Linked DNA regions of Homo sapiens: region 2 is linked to region 1. The links come from fine-mapping of genetic effects on gene expression. Tissue or cell type: whole blood. Region 1 holds a variant in brackets; the other region holds the start of a gene. All regions are shown on one strand. Distances are from middle to middle. Region 1 overlaps HSF1 (heat shock transcription factor 1). Region 2 holds the start of DGAT1 (diacylglycerol O-acyltransferase 1).

Region 1 (9,337 bases):
CCCACTGCCCCTCCCTGCCGGGGACACCTGGTGTCACGTAGGGTGTTGGGGATGGATCCATGCGAGCCAGGTGCACCCGGATCCTGGCATCCATCCTGGCAAACACCTGGAGGGCTGCCTTGGACACAGGCCAGGAGCAGACCCTTGGGCCGCCCTTCCAAGGCCTGAGCAGCCAGGTTAAGGGAGGACGGTTCTTCAGGCTGCGACACTGGCTGTCCCATGTCCTGTAGGTGCTCAGGGCCCTCGCCAGGCCTGGAGGTGGCTCAGGGGTGGGGAAGAGCTGTCCCCAGCCAGGTGAGCAGGGCCATGACCGCGCTCCTGCTGCTCTGGGAGGCTGGGCCCTGTCAAGCCTGTGAGTCTTCTTGGTAGGCCAGGTCCACGTGGCCGGACTCCAGGAATCACAAAGCCGGTGGCTCCTGCTAGACCCCATGCAGGAGAGTCTGAGGCCAAGGCCTCCTCCATGACGTGGGGGTCAAGAGCGCCTGCTGCACGGAGCCGAGGAAGCCGTACTGGCATTGGGGTTCCCGCATGCCTGGAGCCCCAAAGTGGACGTGAGACCTGAGCTGGCCTTCCGAGGTGGGCTTGCCTCAGTTTCTCAGGTGCCACCGTGTGTTAGGCTCCTGCTAAGGTTTCCCCAGAGCCGCAGGGTCCCGGTGAGGAGGGGCTGGGGGCTAGCTCCATGGGCCCAGGCGAGTGTGGGACAGCGGTTCCAGGAAGGGCCTGAGGTGGGTCTGACCCCAGGCCCGAGGCGGGTGGGACGGGTCTGCTGTGCAAGGCTTGTCCTCAAAAGTAGGCTGGTGGGTCCCGCCAAGCTCGGAGCCAGGCAGAAGCCAATGGCCCAGAGGGCGCTGGGGATGTGCAGAGCAGGGGACCCTCCCAACCCCCTTCTGCACATGGAAAACGGCTGGCCCCAGAGCTGTTGCAGCAGCCACGGGCGGCGGGGCTGGGGCAGAGGCCCAGGGTAGATGTGCGTGGAGCGGGAGGGTGGAGCTGAGCACCTGGCCCCGGTCAGGGCCCTGCCCCCACAGCACCCGGGGCCTCTTGGTGGGCGCCAGGACCCGCTGTGGCCCATAATGCTGGTGTGGGACCTACTGCTTCATGGCCAGGAGCTTGGAGTCCATGCACTCCTGCTTCCCCTTCATCAGCTGCACGTCCGTCAGCAGCTTGGTGACGCTGTCCTGGCGGATCTTTATGTCTTCACTCTTCAGGGTGGACACCTGGATTCCCGAGAGGGACAGGAGTCACTGGAGCAGCCTAGGAGCTTGGCAGGCTCAGGCTCGTCCACTGCAGCCAGGTCCCTCAGGAAGGGGCAGGCTGGGGTGGGAGCCCTCAGGGAGGGGCGGGCGGGGAGAGCTGTGGCAGGTGAGACCGGGCAAGGGTGCAGGGCCGGCACTCACACTGGTCACTTTCCTCTTGATGTTCTCAAGGAGCTGCTCCTGGCCACGCAGGAAGCATGGGTGCTGGAACTCCGTGTCGTCTCTCTCTGGCTTGACCAGGCCGCCCTGCTCGATGTGGACCACTTTCCGGAAGCCATCTGCACATAACAGGGAAGGGGGCAGCTCTGCCTCAGGGCGGGACCAGAACCCCTGAAGAGCGGCCACTGCTCCAGGAGGCTGCTGCGGGGCTTGGCCATGGTCAGACCCTGCCCTGCCCCCTCAGAGCCCATGCCTGGGTGGCCGAGTGGCCTTGGTCTAAGGGAGACCCTGTGTCCCCACAGGGCTCCCTGCGCCCGACACACGTGGAGTACAGCTCCGGCTTCACGGTTCTTCCATGGGGACCCCAGGTTCATACCCACAAGGACCCTCCCCCATGGAAGAGGCGGCTGCTCCCCGGCCCCCAGGCTTGCAGGGTCCCACGCCATGCCCTTGGCCAGCACAGGACGCCCCGTCCTTCATCACAGGGTCCTCCTGCTGGGGTCCCGCCATCTGCAGGTCTGCCTCCCGCACCCCTGCGCTGCCTGGAGGCAGCACTCACACATGTTGAGCTGCCGCACGAAGCTGGCCATGTTGTTGTGCTTGAAGTACTTGGGCAGCACCTCCTTGGCAAACTGGCCCTGGTCGAACACGTGGAAGCTGTTCCCGCTCTGAAAGGGAGACACATGGGTGGGTCACGCGTGGTGGTGAGGGGCAGCGTGCCCAAGCCGCCCCTTCCCCAGGCCGCCCCTTCTGAAACGCAGGCAGTGCACGTTCCACCTGATGGGGCTGGGGCCATGGGAGGCCCAGGGGGCTGGCGGGAGGCGAGTTCGTTCCTGGGACCACCTGCCACACGGGCCTCATCTGTGCAGCGTGACCTGCATCCTCACTGTGAGGCCCAGGACTGGGCGGTGGGCAGATGCGAGGCCTTCCTCTCAGTCGGAAAGCCCCTCCCCAGGGCTTCCAGAGAAGGCCACGTTTCCACTCACAAAGCATCCGCCGCACTCTGGCCACATTTCCACTCACAAAGCACCCGCCGCACTCTGGCCACGTTTCCACTCACAAAGCACCTGTTTAAGCAGGACCTTTCCCTTGGGAACAGCGAAGGAAATGGAGCCCTAATTTCATTACTCCCGAGGAAAACACAGTCGCGTTCAGAAATCCAAATTCAGTCTTGTTTTGTGACGTGAGACAAGAAACAGAGACAGTCAAACACTGCATATACCTTCCTCTTCCATTTCTCTACCGAGCTCAGGCCCAGAGCTATCAGGAGGCGCTGGTGAGGGAGGCATCCCTGTTGGCCGTGGCCGCGGTGGCTCAGAGGGGACATCGAAGGCTTAGGGGACAGCGAGAAGCCCACACGGCGGGGAAGGGGGGCCTGAAGCAGGGCCAGAGAGGGGTGAGGGGTGTCTGCATAGGAAGGGGCGGCTGACTCAGTGAAGAAACTGGTGAAGGGCAGTGGGGCAGGTTTCTCCCTGCCAGGGAAGGGAGCTGCAGATGCAAACAGGGAAAAAGCCAGAAAGACCCCCGTGGTGTGGCACTAGAAGTGGAGAACCTCTTTCCAGCATAGAGAGATGTGAAATACACAGGGATGTACACGTGTCAGGGAGGGAAACGGTCACGGAAAGGACCCCAAGGCAGCAGGAGAGAGACGGCGAAAAGCGCCAAGCCAACTTTCCAGAACTCTGAAAGTTAACCAAAGAATTACAGTAGCACGGGGAGCATTTATTCAAGAAAAACAGCTGAATCTTAGTAAGAACAGTGGGCTTTGTGAACTTTTTTTTTTTCTGAGACAAGGTCTTGCTCAGGCTGGAGTGCACCAGCACCAACATGGCTCACTGCAGCCTCTGCATCCCAGTTCAAGCGATTCTCGTGCCTCAGCCTCCCAGTTCAAGCGATTCTCGTGCCTCAGCCTCCCGAGTTCAAGTGATTCTCCTGCCTCAGCCTCCCGAGTAGCTGACTATAGGCGCCACCACGCCCGGCTCATTTCTGTATTTTTAGGAGAGATGGGGTTTCACCATGTTGCCCAGACTGGTCTCGAATTCCTGACCTCAATCAATCCGCCCACCTTGGCCTCCTGCAGTGCTGGGATTACAGGCGTGAGCCTCTGTGCCCAGCCAGGCTTTGTGGCATTTTACATGCCCTATTCCCACTCCATCTGCAGCCTTAAAAACCAACAGCTGCAGTCCCCGTGGGAACAGCGTCCTGGCAGCCGCTGCGGGGTGGGCCAGGGCTTGAGCTCCTCCAGGGCCCCATTCCCAGAGGACTGTCAGCATCTGACCTAAGAGTCCACTCCCAAGGCTGTCTCTGATTTGACTTGAAGCTCTCCTGAATAAAAAAGCTGTTTGCCGAGGTGTGCCTGTTGAAACCTTTACAGGTGATTTTTGAACGCTGTGGCTGCCTGAGGCAGTGCCTGGCAGCTGGGGAGAAGGAGGTGCCACTAGGGGCTCTGAAAAGCTCTGAGATATTCCAGGACATCTCGCAGCCGTGTACACGTGTGAGCCGTGCCCGTGCTCAGGAAAGACCTGAGCCAGCCCCGAGCTCTCACTTCTGGCTGACCTTGAGGCTCTGTGTAAGCAGGAAGTCAGGCATACAGTTGGGTTGTCCACTGCCTGGCCGAGTGCTGAAGGCGTCCCCAACACACACACACACACACACAGCCCCCGGAAAAGACGGGAGACTCACTGGCCCCAGGCATTCAAGAACATTTCTGCCCCATCACCACCTATCTCAGTTAACTGAACAGAGACGGCAGTGGCCATAAACAAGAAAGAACGCAACCTTTACAGAATTAGTGCCGAAAAGCTACCTGACAGATAACCACGACAAACAGCAGCAATGACAAATCCTGGGGAGGTGGGGGAGTCCGAGCTCCAGAGCTGCCACTCTCAACCGATGAGAGTTCCAGTTTTCCAGCCGGCTGCGCTGGTTCACGCCTGCGGTCCCAGCACTTTGGGAAGCCGAGGCGGGTGGGTTGCTCAAGCTCAGGAGTTGGAGACTGGCCTGGGCAACATGGCAAAACCCCGTCTCTAGAAGAAATACAAAAATTAAGTGGGCGTGGTGGCGCACACCTATCATCCCAGCTACTCAGGAGGCTGAGGAGGGAGGATCCCTTGAGCTCCGGAGGTGAAGGCTGCAGTGAGCTGTGATTGAACTACTGCGCTCCAGCCTGGGTAACAGACTCAAAAACAAACAAACAAACAAACAAACAAAAAACTCTAGTTAAAAAAAAAAATAGAGATATGCAAAGAAACAAGAAGCTAGGACCCATACCCCATACACGGGAAAAAAAAAAAAAGGCAATCAATAGAAACTGTCCCCAAAGAAGCCAAAACATTGGACACTGGACTTACGAGGCAAAGATTTTAAGTCAATCATTTCAAATATGTTCAAACAACTAAAGGAAACCACATCTGAAGAACTAAAGTATGAGAATGACATCTTATCAGAGAGTATCAATAAAGAGATAAAAATTGTAAAGAAGCCCGAAATCAAAATTATGGAGCTGAAGAGTTTAATAACTCAGATTAAAAGTCAACCAGAGGGGCCGGGCGCGGTGGCTCACGCCTGTAATCCCAGCAGTTTGGGAGGCCAAGGCAGGCGGATCACCTGAGGTCAGGAGTTGGAGACCAACCTGACCAACATGGAGAAACCCCGTCTCTACTAAAAATACAAAATTAGCCAGG[T/C]GTGGTGGCTCATGCCTGTAATCCCGGCTACTCAGGAGGCTGAGGCAGGAGAATTGTTTGAACCCGGGAGGCAGAGGTTGCAGTGAGCCGAGATCGCGCCATTGCACTCCAGCCTGGGCTACAGAGTGAGACTCCGTCTCAAAAAAAAAAAAAAAAAAAAAAAAAAATTAACCAGAGGGGCTTAAGAGCAGACCTGACTAGGAGAAGAAGGAGTCAGCAAACATGAAGATCAGTCAATTGAGGTGCTCCAGTAGGAGAAAAAAAGACAGAAGGAATAAGAAGGAGGAGCCGGCCAGGCGCAGTGGCTCACGCCTGTAATCTCAGCACTTTGGGAGGCCAAGGTGGTTGGATCACGAGGTCAAGAGATCTAGACCATCCTGGCCAACATGGTCAAACCCCATCTCTACTAAAAATACAAAAAAAATTAGTTGGGCATGGTGGCATGTGCCTGTAATCCCAGCTACTTGGGAGGCTGAGGCAAGAGAATCGCTTGAACTCTGGAGGCAGAGGTTGCAGTGAGCCGAGATTGCACCACTGCACTCCAGTCTAGTGACAGAAAGAGACTCTGTCTCAAAAAAATAAAAACAAAAACAAAAATGAGCAGAGCCTCAGAGACCTGTGAGACACCACAAAAAGTGTAACACAGCCGGGCATGGTGGCTCACACCTGTAATCCCAGCATGTTGGGAGGCTGAGCCAGGCGGATCACCTGAGGTTAGGAATTCGAGACCAGCCTGGCCAACATGGGGAAACCCCGTCTCTACTAAAAATATAAAAATTAGCCGGCACAGTGGCGGGCGCCTATAGTCCCAGCTACTCGGGAGGCTGAGGCAGGAGAATCGCTTGAACCCAGGAGGCAGAGGTTGCAGTGAGCCGAGATCACCCCACTGCACTCCAGCCTGGGGGACAGAGTGAGACTCTGTCTCAATAAAAAAAAAAAAAAAGGATTAAAATGCCTGGTGTGGTGGCTCATGCCTGTAATCCCAACACTTTGGGAGGCTGAGGTGTGTGGATCGTTTGAGGTCAGGAGTTCCAGCCTGGCCAGCATGGTGAAACCCCGCCTCTACTAAAAATGGAAAAATTTTAGTGTCGTGGCTCATGCCTGTAATCCCAGCTACTTGGGAGGCTGAGGCAGAAGAACTGCTTGAACCCGGGAGGTAGAAGTTGTAGTGAGCACAGATCGTGCCACTGCCCTCTAGCCTGGGTGACAGAGCGAGACTCCATCTCCAAAAAAACAGAAACAAAAACAAACCAAAACAAATAAAATAAAAGCATTAAAATAAAAGACCCTGCCACTCAATCTTTGTATATTGGCCGGGTGTAGTTACTCATGCCTGTAATCCCAGCACTTTGGGAGGCCAAGGCAGGAGGATCCCTTGAGCCCAGGAGTTGGAGACCAGCCTGGGCAACATAGCGAGACCCCATCTCTACAAAACATAAAAATTCAATATCCGGCAAAGCTATGCTTTGAAAATGGAGAGATTTCCACTTCTGGAACAGCAATGTGAGGAACTTCATGGAAGTACTTCCTGTGAAACAAGCAAAGCTTAAACCACTTAAAGTCTCAAAACTGTCCTAAACGCATATAACAGATGAACACTTACGGAGTAAAATCTACTGACACCTGGTACGAACATTAAGCCTGGTGGCATCTGAGCCTCAGCCTCCTCTTTCCCTCTCACCCCAGCTCACCATGATGGGTACTACACTCAGGGAGAGGGGAGCAGGAAGATGGGGACCCTTCTCCCCTCAATTCCCAAATAAGGTTTCCTGGATCTCATGGGCTGGGCAGACCACCAGAGTTTCACATCCTCACCGACTCCAAGTTGAAGAGACTAAGATCCTGGTGCACGTGGCCAAGAAGCCAGGGGCTCCCTTCCTCCACCTTGCCCAAGCCTCAGAGAGGAGACTACCCCCGCCACAGCAGGCTGAGGACACCCAGGTCTCTGATCACCCTCCCCACAGCTCCCACCTAATTAAAGCATTTTCAAAACCACAATTTTTTTTTTTATTTTTTATATGGAGTCTCGCTGTCGCCCAGGCTGGAGTGCAGTGGTGCCATCTTGGCTCACTGCAACCTCCGCCTCCTGGGTTCAAGCAATTCTCCTGCCTCAGCTTCCTGGGTAGCTGGTATTACAGGCATGTGCCACCACGCCCGGCTTATTTTTATATTTTTAGTAGAGACAGGCTTTCACCAGGTTGGTCAGGCTGGTCTTGAACTCCTGACCATAAGTGATCCACCCACCTTGGCTTCCCAAGGTGCTGGGATTACAGGCATGAGCCACTGTGCCTGGCCTTAAAAACCACAAGTTTTAAATACAGTTCAGGCTTTCTAGGTTAAAACAGTAGGGTAGAGCACCCATGCTGGGAAAGCCAGGCCAAGAAGATCAGAGGCTGCTGTCTTACCCAGTGCCCAGAAGGGTGGTGCAGAGAAATCAGCCTGGGGAGAGAGGCCGTCCATAAGGAAAGAGCTCTGAAGCTCCCTGAGGAAACTCATTTTATTTGAAAGTTCAGCCCAAGACTGCTCTTGGGAACAACAGCTCCTCTAAGTTAAGAGAAACAAGTGAAACCGCAGGCTTGTTCACCTGCACAGGAAAAGCTACGAAGAGCCCTGCTGGGGCCAGAACAACCCTGACTGACCTCAGACACTACCACTACTCAAAAACCCCAAACACGCCTGCAACAATAATCCAAATAGCGAGACCCCCATCTATACCAAAAAAATGATAGAAGAGACGAAATCATAAAGGACCCCCAGTGGAAACTCTGGAGTAGAATAACCAAAGCAGAACTGCTGGCCGTGTGGTAAATGCTGAATTTCACATGCAACTCCCAAGCTGCTTTCCAAAGCGGATGCAGCATTTGTGTTCTCAGCAGCACGGGTGAGTTCCAGGGGCTCCGCACCCTCCTCAGCACCTGGCTGTTCTAGTCGCTGTCGCTGCGGTTTTCGTGTGCATTCCTCTGACAACGAACGATGCTGAGCACCTGTTCAAGTGCTTATTTGCTATTTGTCTATCTTTTTTTTGATGTATCTGTTCAAATCTTCTGCCTTTTTCAATGTATGTTTTTTCGAGACAGAGTCTGCTTTGTCACCCAGGCTGGAGTGCAGTGGCGCGATCTGGGCTCACTGCAACCTCTACCTCCTGGGATCAAGAGATCCTCCCACCTCAGCCTCCCGCGTAGCTGGGCCCACAGGAGCACACCACCACATCAGGCTCATTTTTTTTTGTAGAGATGGGTCTCCCTATGTTGCCCAGGCTGGTCTCGAACTCCTGAGTGGAAGCAATCTACCCGCGCTGGCCTCCCAAAGTGTTGGGATTACAGGTGTCAGCTACCATGCTCAGCCACTTGCGTTTTATTTATTATTATTATTATCTTTTTTTTTTAGATGGAGTCTCGCTCCACTGCCCAGGCTAGAGTGCAATGGCGCGATCTCAGCTCACTGCAACCTCTGCCTCCCGGGTTCATGCGATTCTCCCACCTCAGCCTCCTGAGTAGCTGGGACTACAGGCACCTGCCATCACGCCCAGCTAATTTTTGTATTTTCAGTAGAGACGGGGTTTCACCATATTGGCCAGGCTGCTTTTGAATTCCTGACCTTGTGATCCGCCTGCCTCGGTCTCCCAAAGTGCTGGGATTACAGGCGTGAGCCACGGCGCCCGGCCTGCCTTTAATTTTTTTTAAATGGTTGTCTTCCTGAGTTGCAAAAAAAAATTTTTTTTTTTGGAGACGGAGTCTCGCTGTGTCGCCCAGGCTGGAGTGCAATGGTGCAGTTTCGGCTCACTGCAGCCTCTGCCTCCTGGGTTCCAGAGATTCTCCCGCCTCAGCCTCCCGAGTAGCGGGGATTACAGGCACCTGCCACCACGCCCAGCTAGTTTTTGTATTTTTAGTAGAGACAAGGTTTCACCATGTTGGCCAAGCTATGTTGCCCCATCTGGGAGCAATCCTTCCACCCGAGCCTCTGAGTAGCTGGCACCACAGGCACCACCACCGTGCACGGCTCTTCTGGATGCTTTTTATTTTTTTTGAGACGGAGTCTCGCTTTGTCGCCCAGGCTGGAGTGCAGTGGTGCGATCTCGGCTCACTGCAAGCTCTGCCTCCCGGGTTCACGCCATTCTCCTGCCTCAGCCTCCCGAGTAGCTAGGACTACAGGCACCCGCCACCACGCCCGGCTAATTTTTGTATTTTCAATAGAGACGGGGTTTCACTGTATTAGCCAGGATGGTCTCGACCTCCTGAC
Region 2 (9,337 bases), 21 kb before region 1:
CCCCCAAGACCCCTCCTTCAGGCATTAATCATTCACTGACCGTTCATTGAGCACCTACTATGTGCCAGGCCAATTGCTGAGTCCGCCAGGAGCGCAGCCACCTGCTGGGAGGTGTGTTTGCAGGACAGGGGTCCAACCGGCTTGGGTGGGCCAGGGAAGAACGGCAGATGCAGAGAGACCAGGTCCCTAGGTTCACATGCCCCCTACACTCCTCCCCACCTCAACCAGTCCCTGCTGGGCACAACTGGGCTCTACCTTTGAGTTAGGCCTTTTGACTCCAGCTGAGGGGGACAGATCCAGGGCTCCTGGGCCCCCACACAGGTGGCCACTTCTCTGATCCTCTGGCCAACACACATCTGCCATGTCCAGCCAGGGGCAGAGCCATGGCTGGAGAAGAAGGTGCCAGCTGTAGCCTATGGTGTGGCCAGCCTCACCCCCAGCAGCAAGCGTGGCTGCCCCCACAAGGATGACCCACCGCTCTGCACAGCAGTGCCCACATCCAAACACCCTACACAACCAGGTGTGGTGCCTGCACAGCTCCCAAGCTGGGGCCTGCCCACCTGTGCCGCATGCACACGCACACACAGGCGCCCCCACCTCACCCCACCCCATACTCCTGTCTACCTACCTAAGGAGAAAGCTGGAGGGCTGTGGGCCCGTCAGGGTCTCCTGCTTCCCCCTACACCCCGCCGCCGTGGAAAGCCATGGGCCCCCTCCCGCCCCCATAACTAAGCAGCACAATAACCGACTTAGCGAATTCAGGTAGAAGGAACGTTTAGGTAGCACCTATTTTGTACTGATTCTACAAGTAGGGCCCGAGGTGCGGGGGCCCTCGGGTGGGGGCTGCGGCCGCCGGCCCGCCCGCCCCCACCCCCGCCTGTGCCCCGCCGCCTTGTACATATTCCCACCCGGAATAGGCCGGGATTTTTACTCGGGCCGTGCCCCTCTTCCGCCCCCATTTGGGGCCAGGCCGGCCGGACAGACGGACGGACGGACAGACCTCCTTCCTAAGCACAATAGCACCAGCTCCCCGGAGCACCGCACCTCCACAAGGAGAATAAATGCCACTCTTGATAGAATTTGGAGTGTCGGGCTGATGTGTCCTGGGCTGGGCCCACGCTGTTGGGTGGCTGGGAGGGTCTTCCCAGTCTGGCAGTACCTCAGAGGCTGGTGCTGCAAGGGTCAGCCTGAGGCCTTTCACAAGACGGCCCTCTTCTTCCACTGGGGAGGGCAGGCTTGGCAGGCCCAACCACAGGAGCATCAGGTCTGAAGGCAAAGTAGTTGGCATTTCCCCTGGGGTAGGTGGATCTGCTCCACACCAGGAACAGGAGCACTAAGGGGTTCCAGTCTAAAGTCAGGCCAAGCCCACGGTTGGACCAGAGTGGGCAGGGTAGGTATAGTAGGAGCTGCTGTTCCCCAGCCTGGGTGCCTTCGCTCTTCTCTCCCTGAAGGAGCTTTATGCTGTGATGGAAGGCCTGATAGCCACCTCAAGCCCTCTGAGATGCTGTTGCAGGAAATGGGGACAGTGGAGAGTTCGAGGTCTGGCCCTTTTCCTGTGGCCTGCTGCCCACATTCTGACCCCCAGGCTTCCCAGATATGCTCCCCCAGTGTCTGCGGATGCCTCCATGGATAGCTGGGTTGGACCGGTTCCAGGGAGGAGGTGCCCAGGGGGCAGAGAGGCTTCTGCAACCATCGCCCAAGGGCTCTAGACAGAATGAGTAGTGGAGGAGATAAGGGACAGGGACCCTTTGCCCAGCAATGTCCCCTGGTAACCAGGTAGGCAGGCATGAGCCGAGAGGCCCAAAGTCTTCGGGCACATACATTCAAACCAGGTCAGTCCTAGATCCAGGGCCAGCAAAGCTGCCCACACCCTAGCAGGGACAGGGGACAGACCTGCCCAGACTCCACTAGGGTGGAGAGCAGGGGAACCAGGTCTGCAGCATGTCATGGCCTGTGTGCCTGGCACTTGGAGGAGCTGTGGTGCAGGTGGGTGCTCTCTTTGGGAGAGCACTACCAGCAATGACAATGGCAGACAGCAATGGCCAGGAGGAAGGCTCCTAGCCTCACTCCTTCCAAAGGACTCCAACAGCGACTGGCTGTTTCTACTTCTCCAGGATTCTGATGCGTAGAGTGGGTGGAAGGATGGAGGTGGCCTCCCTGAGGCCTGGGATGAGCTCGACCCCCCAGTTCCTCCCAGCCACAGACACAAGTTTCCCTCTGAATGAGCAGCACAGGCCATAGACCACCACTGGCTGTGAACTCTCCTGGGACCCTTGCTTCTCACAGGCCTTCTTGGCCCACCCATGGCCCCTAGGCCCTGGGATCAGCCTGAGGCCCCAACCCACTTCCAGCCCTTTATTCCACTAGCCCTGGAAGGCAACTCGCTTCGGGCTTGGGCCCCCTCATTTGTTGCTGCCCCCAGCAGGGTGATCTGCATCATGCTTTCCTCGATGACCCAGCCATACACACCCTTGTCCCCAACCAACCTCACCTACCCTGACCATTCCCCTCACCCTAGATCCCAGGGTATAGGGCCTGTCTGGGCAGGGCTTCACCCACCTCTGGAGCTGCTGCCCCGCCACGCCCCCACCCCCGGTGGCAAAGCCCTTCCTTAATGGCCCGCCCACAGCCAGTGCTTTCCCCATTGGCTCCAAGCCTGGCTCTGCTCACCAGGCCCGACCCATCCTCCCTGGTGGTCCAGTCCACCCTCCCATTGTCTTTCTCCTGTGGCCACTTGCCGGCTTTGAGTTGGGACGCGACCACAGGTTGAGTCGTTGATCTCCTCTGCCTAGCATGAGGTGCTCCGTGGCCAGGTCCAGACCTCTCTGAGCTTGCTGTCAGTCCATACTCAGACAGGTCTGGGCCTACCTGGCCACAGAGTGTGTCTGCCAGCGACTGCATTCAACAAATGAATATTCTGAGAGACTGGGTAGGAGATGGGGCTGGTCCTGACCGACCAAGGCCCATGTGTGAGGGGCTCTTGGGTCCAGTGAGGGCGGCCCCACTCGGCAGGCTACACAAAGGGCATCTGCCAGGTAGCTCCAGCCTGCCTGATACCTGGTTGGCAGCAACCCACAGCGGCCTGTGGTGACAAGAATATGTCACCAGGGGGGCAACCAAGGGGGCAGCCCTGCTGGCCACTGTTGGTGGAGGTGGTGGAAGAGGACGGAGCTCAGAGGCGAGGCTGTGACCAGCCCACGGGAGAGGACCCCACCTCAGGAGGAGCACCTGTTTGCTTCCAGAGAAGTGCTGCTTGCCCCTGCTCACCCCAGAGGAATGAAGGTGTTTCTAGAGTCAGAGTCCTCAGTGAACCCTGGCATCCTGAGATCCAGGATGTTCTCACTCCATGCCCTGTGCAATATGCACACCAAGCCAAGGTGGGCCGCAACTGTGGCTGTTACAGTTGATTAGTTGCTTCATTTAACATACAAGATGTCTGGGGCAGTGGCTCATACCTGTAATCCCAGCACCTTCAGAGGCCGAGGTGGGAGGATTGCGTGAGGCCAGGAGTTCGAGACCAGCCTGGGCAGAATAGCGAGACCCCCATCTTTAGAAAAAATAACAACAGGCCAGGCGCGGTGGCTTGCGCCTATAATCCCAGCACTTTGGGAGGCCGAGGTGGGCGGATCACGAGGTCAGGAGATCGAGACCAGCCTGGCCAATATGGTGAAAGCCCGTCTCTACTAAAAACAGAAAAATTAGCTGGGCGTGGTGGCACGCGCCTGTAGTCCTGGCTACTCGGGAGGCTGAGGCAGGAGAATCGCTTGAACCCAGGAGGTGGAGGTTGCAGTGAGACGAGATCGCGCTACTGCACTCCAGCCTGGCGACAGAGTGAGACTGTCTCAAAAAAAGAAAAAAGAAAACAAAAAACAACAGGGCGGTTGCACAGGCCGTGCAAATGCACAGAAGCCTCTTGAGTCCCGGCGATCCAGCGGCCCAGACTTCTGACATCCTGGAGAGGCTGGCCCACGTTGGAAACTGGGAGGCCCTGAGAGTTGAGGGACGTGGAGCTCCTTGTGGAGAGAGTGGGTGGGCTGAGAAGACACCACCAAGGGGCCTGCGCCCTCGCCCTCGCCCTCGCCCTCCTCTCGCCGGGCTCTGCAGGCGGGGAGGTGGAGAGCCTGGGAGTCGCGTGCAAGGCAGGCGTCCCGGTGACGCAGGGCCTGGTGCATTTCTCCAGCTTGGTCTTCTGACCTGGCCCTTGTCTGACGTCCCCCTAAGGCGAAGAAAAGCAGGTTCCTGCCGGGGTAACCAGAGGGCTCGCGGAGCAGAAGCGCGCCAGGGACGTTACTGTAAGCTGCGTGCGCAGAAACCAACGCGCTGGGTGGCGGGCGACGCGAGCCGCCGCGGACACCGGCCCGGACAGCTGGACCGTGGCGCACTAGGCGCTTCCTAAATGATTGCCCGGAGTGACTCGCCGAGACCCCGTGTGTACACAAGTGGGACGAGGGGCGGGCGCACAGCGGCCAGGAAGTCGGGGCCCAGCGCACCCCTCAGCGGACCATCCCGCTCCGTGGGGCCGGACAGGACCCCGGGACCACGCGGGAGCGATGCAAGGTCCGTTCCCGCTGCGCGCACTTGCGGCCCGCAGCCCCGGCCCTGGGAGCTGCCACGGCTCCCAGGGTGCTCTGCGCCGGTGCGGCCGCGGCGACTACGACTCCCAGGGTGCTCTGCGCCGGCGCGCCCGCGGCGACTACGACTCCCAGGGTGCCCTGCGCCCCGTCAGCCTCTCCAGGCCCCGCCTCAGGTCGGCCGCGGACTACAAATGGACGAGAGAGGCGGCCGTCCATTAGTTAGCGGCTCCGGAGCAACGCAGCCGTTGTCCTTGAGGCCGACGGGCCCGACGCGGGCGGGTTGAACGCGCTGGTGAGGCGGTCACCCGGGCTACGGCGGCCGGCAGGGGGCAGTGGCGGCCGTTGTCTAGGGCCCGGAGGTGGGGCCGCGCGCCTCGGGCGCTACGAACCCGGCGGGCCCACGCTTGGCTGCGGCCGGGTGCGGGCTGAGGCCATGGGCGACCGCGGCAGCTCCCGGCGCCGGAGGACAGGGTCGCGGCCCTCGAGCCACGGCGGCGGCGGGCCTGCGGCGGCGGAAGAGGAGGTGCGGGACGCCGCTGCGGGCCCCGACGTGGGAGCCGCGGGGGACGCGCCAGCCCCGGCCCCCAACAAGGACGGAGACGCCGGCGTGGGCAGCGGCCACTGGGAGCTGAGGTAGCGGAGCGCCTGACCCCCTAACCTCTGACCCAAGGGCCCCGCGACTTTCCGGGGTTGGCCGAAGCGCGAGCTCCGAGTCCGAGAACATGGGCCCTGGGCTAAGCGGGGATCGGTGTGCCCTATGGGCCCTGTGGGGAAACTGAGGCTTGGGGAGAGTCACCTGACAAGGTCACTGGGTAGGGGCTCTGGAGCTGGCCTTGGCCAGGCAGAGGGGAGCCGGCAGGTGTCCCGCATCCAGATCCTCTTGGGTCTGTGCATCCTCAGGGGCTCCTGAGGAGCTTTTCGAGGGGCGGGCTGGTGGGGGCCCGGCCCTGGACAGTGTCCCCTTATATGGAAGGAGTCAGATAAGATCTGGGCAGTTTGTGGTGATAGGTTCCTTCTTGGTGCTATGAGCGGTGCCTTGCGGGTAGGAAAGGCTCCCAGAGGAGGGCTGGCCTGCCAGGGAGGGGGCCAGAGGAGCCCAGGCCTGTCCGAGGACAGGGGAATCAGCAGCTGCCCCGGACAAGGGGCAGTGTTAGAGGCGTTCTTGTCCTTGCAGACCCTTCTGAGAGTGGCTGCGTGGCCCATTCATTGCTCCAGTGGTTAGGCTGGCCTGGAGCCCTGCCGATGTTGCCAGAGCCAGCGTCTGTTGTAGGGACAGAGAGTTGGGTTCTGTGTTGGGACTTCCATCCTCCAGGTGGGGAGTGGGGTATGGGGGTGGTGGACACACCTGCAGGCGTGTGCCCTGCTCAGCTGGATGACTGACAGAGAGGGGTGGAGGGAGAGAACCATGGCCGATGGGAAGGACTTGGCCAGCCTGGGCATTGGCTTCCTCCACCAAGCTGGCCTTGAGCAATCCCCTTGCCACCCTCCATCCCCCCTTTATGGCCTTTACCCTGGCCCAGGGGCCCTCAGGGCTTTGTTTTAGAGAGCAGCTGAGGGCCTAGAGGTTATCAAGGCAGAAGTGGGCTGATTTTGGACATGTAGTTGGCAATGATTTGCTCTCTCAGTGAGCAAGAACAGAGCTTTCCTTCACGGGGCACCATGGGGAGGGGGTTGGGGGAGGGCAGGCACTGTCGTGGCCCTCAGGGTGCTCAGTTCATCTGGGAGATAAGATAACCTCAGCGAGAGTCAGGCATGGAGCAACATGGACAAAGGTCGGGCACGGAGGCCTTGAAGGGGCCGTGGGGAGGAGGGTGGCCCTCCTGAGAGGGGTGCTTGCCTGCTGTGGGCCTGGGGTGCTGGTGAGGGAGGCTGGCCTAGGCACCTCCTACCTGAAAAGGAGGTGTGGCTCCTGGAGTTACCCTCTCTCCAGGAGGCAGGGGGATGGCTACATGACCTGTGGAGGACGTGGGAATTGAGATTTCTTTTTTTTTCTTTTCTTTTTTTTTGAGACTAGTTTTGCTCTTGTTGCCCAGGCTGGAGTAAAATGGCACATTCTTGGCTCACTGCAACCTCTGCCTCCCAGGTTCAAGTGATTCTCCTGCCTCAGCCTCCAGAGTAGCTGGGATTAGAGGCGCCCACCACACCCGGCTAATTTTGTATTTTTAGTAGAGATGGGGTTTCTCCATGTTGGTCAGGCTGGTCTCGAACTCCTGAACTCAGGTGATCCACCTGCCTTGGCCTCCCAAAGTGCTGGGATTACAGGTGTGAGCCACCGCGCCCGGCCGGGAATTGAGATTTTTTTTAGTGTGAGATGAGGGTAGTCCCAGCTTTGGGCCAAGCCGCCACCTGGGGGTAGGCAGGGGAGAGCAGTCACCTTCTTGCTTTGCAAACCAGCAAGGCTTTCCTGTACTTCTGCTGGTGTGGGATGGGTGCAGAGCTCGTGGGAGAGGCCTGGTGAGTCCCTGTCCCTGCCGTGGAGGTCGGGTCTCCTTGGGAAGAGGGGCAGTAGATGGAGAGGTGAGGCCTTCATGGGGCTGGAGGCTGAGACCAAAAGTCTATCTGCTCCTGGGTCTCCAGGACTTGCAGGCTATGTGTGCTTGTCCCTCAGACCTAGGGATGCAGCAGGGCTCGGCCACTGGCTGTGGACACTGGGCTCTTCTCCCTGCTGTCTGCGTCAGGCCTTGCTCTGCCTGCCCTCCTGGGACTTGGCCTCTAGCGCACCCCCTTGTCAGCCTCACAGCCTCCCCTCCCTCCAGCTTCCTGCTGCTCTTGGCCCAGCCCAGCCTTTCCTCTCCCGCTTCCTCATTACTCCTTGAGCTCGGGCCTCCTCCCCTCACGGACACTTCCTGCTCACCTAGGGCTGGGCTCTGGGTGTGAGCTCCTTTCTTCCGGCCCCGTGGCAAGGTGAGGCTGTGAGGCAGGCAGGAGAGGGCACCCCTTTCTGCTCTGCTTGTGGCTCACTCCTGCCAGGCTCTTTGCACACACCCACCAGCCCTCTGCTCACAGGCACCCCAGTCGGGGCCATCCGGTTTCTGGCTTCTCCCAGGGTGTTTTGTCCCTGAGGTGTCCTTTCTGACTCTCCCTTTCTCTCTCCAGCAGGGTCTGCGAGGTGCAGGGAGCCTGCCCCAACCATCTTGAACCCAGGCCCAGCCCAGAGGCCAGAGTGGAGGAGGCGGCAGTGAGCAGAGCTGGACTCTGCCCCCTCCTCATTGTGCTTGGCCCTGGAGCTGCACTGTGTGGGCCCCAAGTGTGGGACTCACTGGGACCTGTGCCTTTGGGCACACTTTGAACCTGGAGACAGGGTGGCGGGTGGGCATGTGCCAAGGTCTCAGTGTTGCCGTGAGACTGAGAGGATCCTGCTGGCTGGGTGGGCCTGGGGGCTGCAGGAGGGAGGGCAGGCTGCTCCGAGTCTTCTTGGACTAGGGAGTGGGTGTAGGGACAGCTGGAAGGTGCAGAGGCTTGGGCAGATCCTCCAGTCAGTGAGAGGGTGATAAAGGTGCTCTAGGCACAGGGGCAGATCCCACCTCCCCATGCCGTTCCATGCAGCCTGCCCTGTAGCCCACATGCTGCTGGCCGCACTGACTGCTTGGAGCTCTGTGGGCACTGGTGGACTGGGGCTTCCTCCTCATGGGGGCCTGTGAGGGGTAGGGGTAGCGCAGTGGGGGTGCTGCCTCTGGGTGGGGCTGGTCAGGCCTGTGAAGGGCCTGAGGTGAGGCTGTGGCTGGGTTGAGGAAGGCCTTGGAAGCCTGTCAAGGGGCCCCTGAGAAAGCTTGTGTAGGATTGTCTGCAGTGAGCTTTGGGAAGCACCACCCTTTCCCGACTCCTGTTTTCATCTTGGAGATGGGCATGGATAAAGCCAGCATGGTGTCCTTGGTGGCTCAAAGGGGGCAGGGGTCATACTGCTGTGAAACAGCTGTGGTTGGTAGGTCGTGGTACAAGAAGGCCAACCCTGAGGCTTGGGATTGTTCTGCTGAAAACAAATGGGCTCGAACTTGGGGAAGAGGGGGCAGTGGAGAGGCCCCCAGACAGACAGCCCAGAGAGGCTGCTGGGCAGTTGGGCCTCGTGCCCCTGCTCCCGTCACGGTGCTGGGGCTCTGGCGGTGTCTACACCCAGCCTCCTGGTTGTGGGCAGGCAGTGAGTGGAGTAGGCTGGGGAGATGAGCCAAGGGCGGTGGTCAGTTGGGAAGACAGCTGCCAACTTGGGGAGGAGGGAGGCTCTGGTGGAGACCACAGCCTCACTGCATGGCCCAGGATGGACCTGGTGGGTGGATGCAGGGCGCTCAGGCTGGAGCTGGGAGAGGCAGGGGCTGGGTGGAGCTGCCTGCCCCTGTGTTCCAGTCTAGATGGGCAGAGGGAAAGGTGTGAGCATCCTCCCTGCCTGGGGGTCTTGGGGACTAGTGTAGACTTGTCCAGGAACTGTGTAGGTGTAGATGGGGCATGTGTTGCACCAACCTTGGTCTTGGGGAGCAAAGGTTGGGCTTGTTGGCATTGCCTCTCGGCCTCCCTGGCCCTTTGCCTCCTGGGCAGGGCCGTCTGACTGCCGACCCCAATCCTAGCCAGCTTGCCTTGGGTGCCCTGAGGGCGTCTGCCTCATGGGGCTCCTGCCATGGCTCTCAGGCCCACTCTCCCTGCCTAGGGGCTCTGAGGGGCAGATGTGCGTGTGCGGGAGGGAAAGGGAGGCTCTGGCCTCTCCTCTTACAAAGTTGAGGACTTGCTCAATGCTGTGTGTGGTGTCCCAGTGGCACGGCAGATGGGGGGTGAGG

What was found.
Region 2: DGAT1 starts here. The variant in region 1 is fine-mapped to the expression of DGAT1 in whole blood (TOPMed, PIP above 0.99).

What each region holds. Positions count from the first base shown.
Region 1 is chr8:144,301,652-144,310,988 of GRCh38, reverse strand. HSF1 (heat shock transcription factor 1) reads right to left here. Exons shown (of 13, transcript NM_005526.4): 2 at 1,975-2,083; 3 at 1,398-1,534; 4 at 1,093-1,217. Among named protein-coding and RNA genes, the nearest start is that of MIR6848, 11 kb to the left of the region's middle. The variant T/C (reference allele first, on the strand shown) is at 5,099.
Region 2 is chr8:144,322,307-144,331,643 of GRCh38, reverse strand. It overlaps DGAT1 (diacylglycerol O-acyltransferase 1), which reads left to right and starts at 4,792. Exons shown (of 17, transcript NM_012079.6): 1 at 4,792-5,207. The coding sequence starts at 5,008. It overlaps SCRT1 (scratch family transcriptional repressor 1), which reads left to right. Exons shown (of 2, transcript NM_031309.6): 2 at 1-1,079. RefSeq lists silencers at 4,366-5,085, 5,096-5,165 and an enhancer at 7,657-7,716.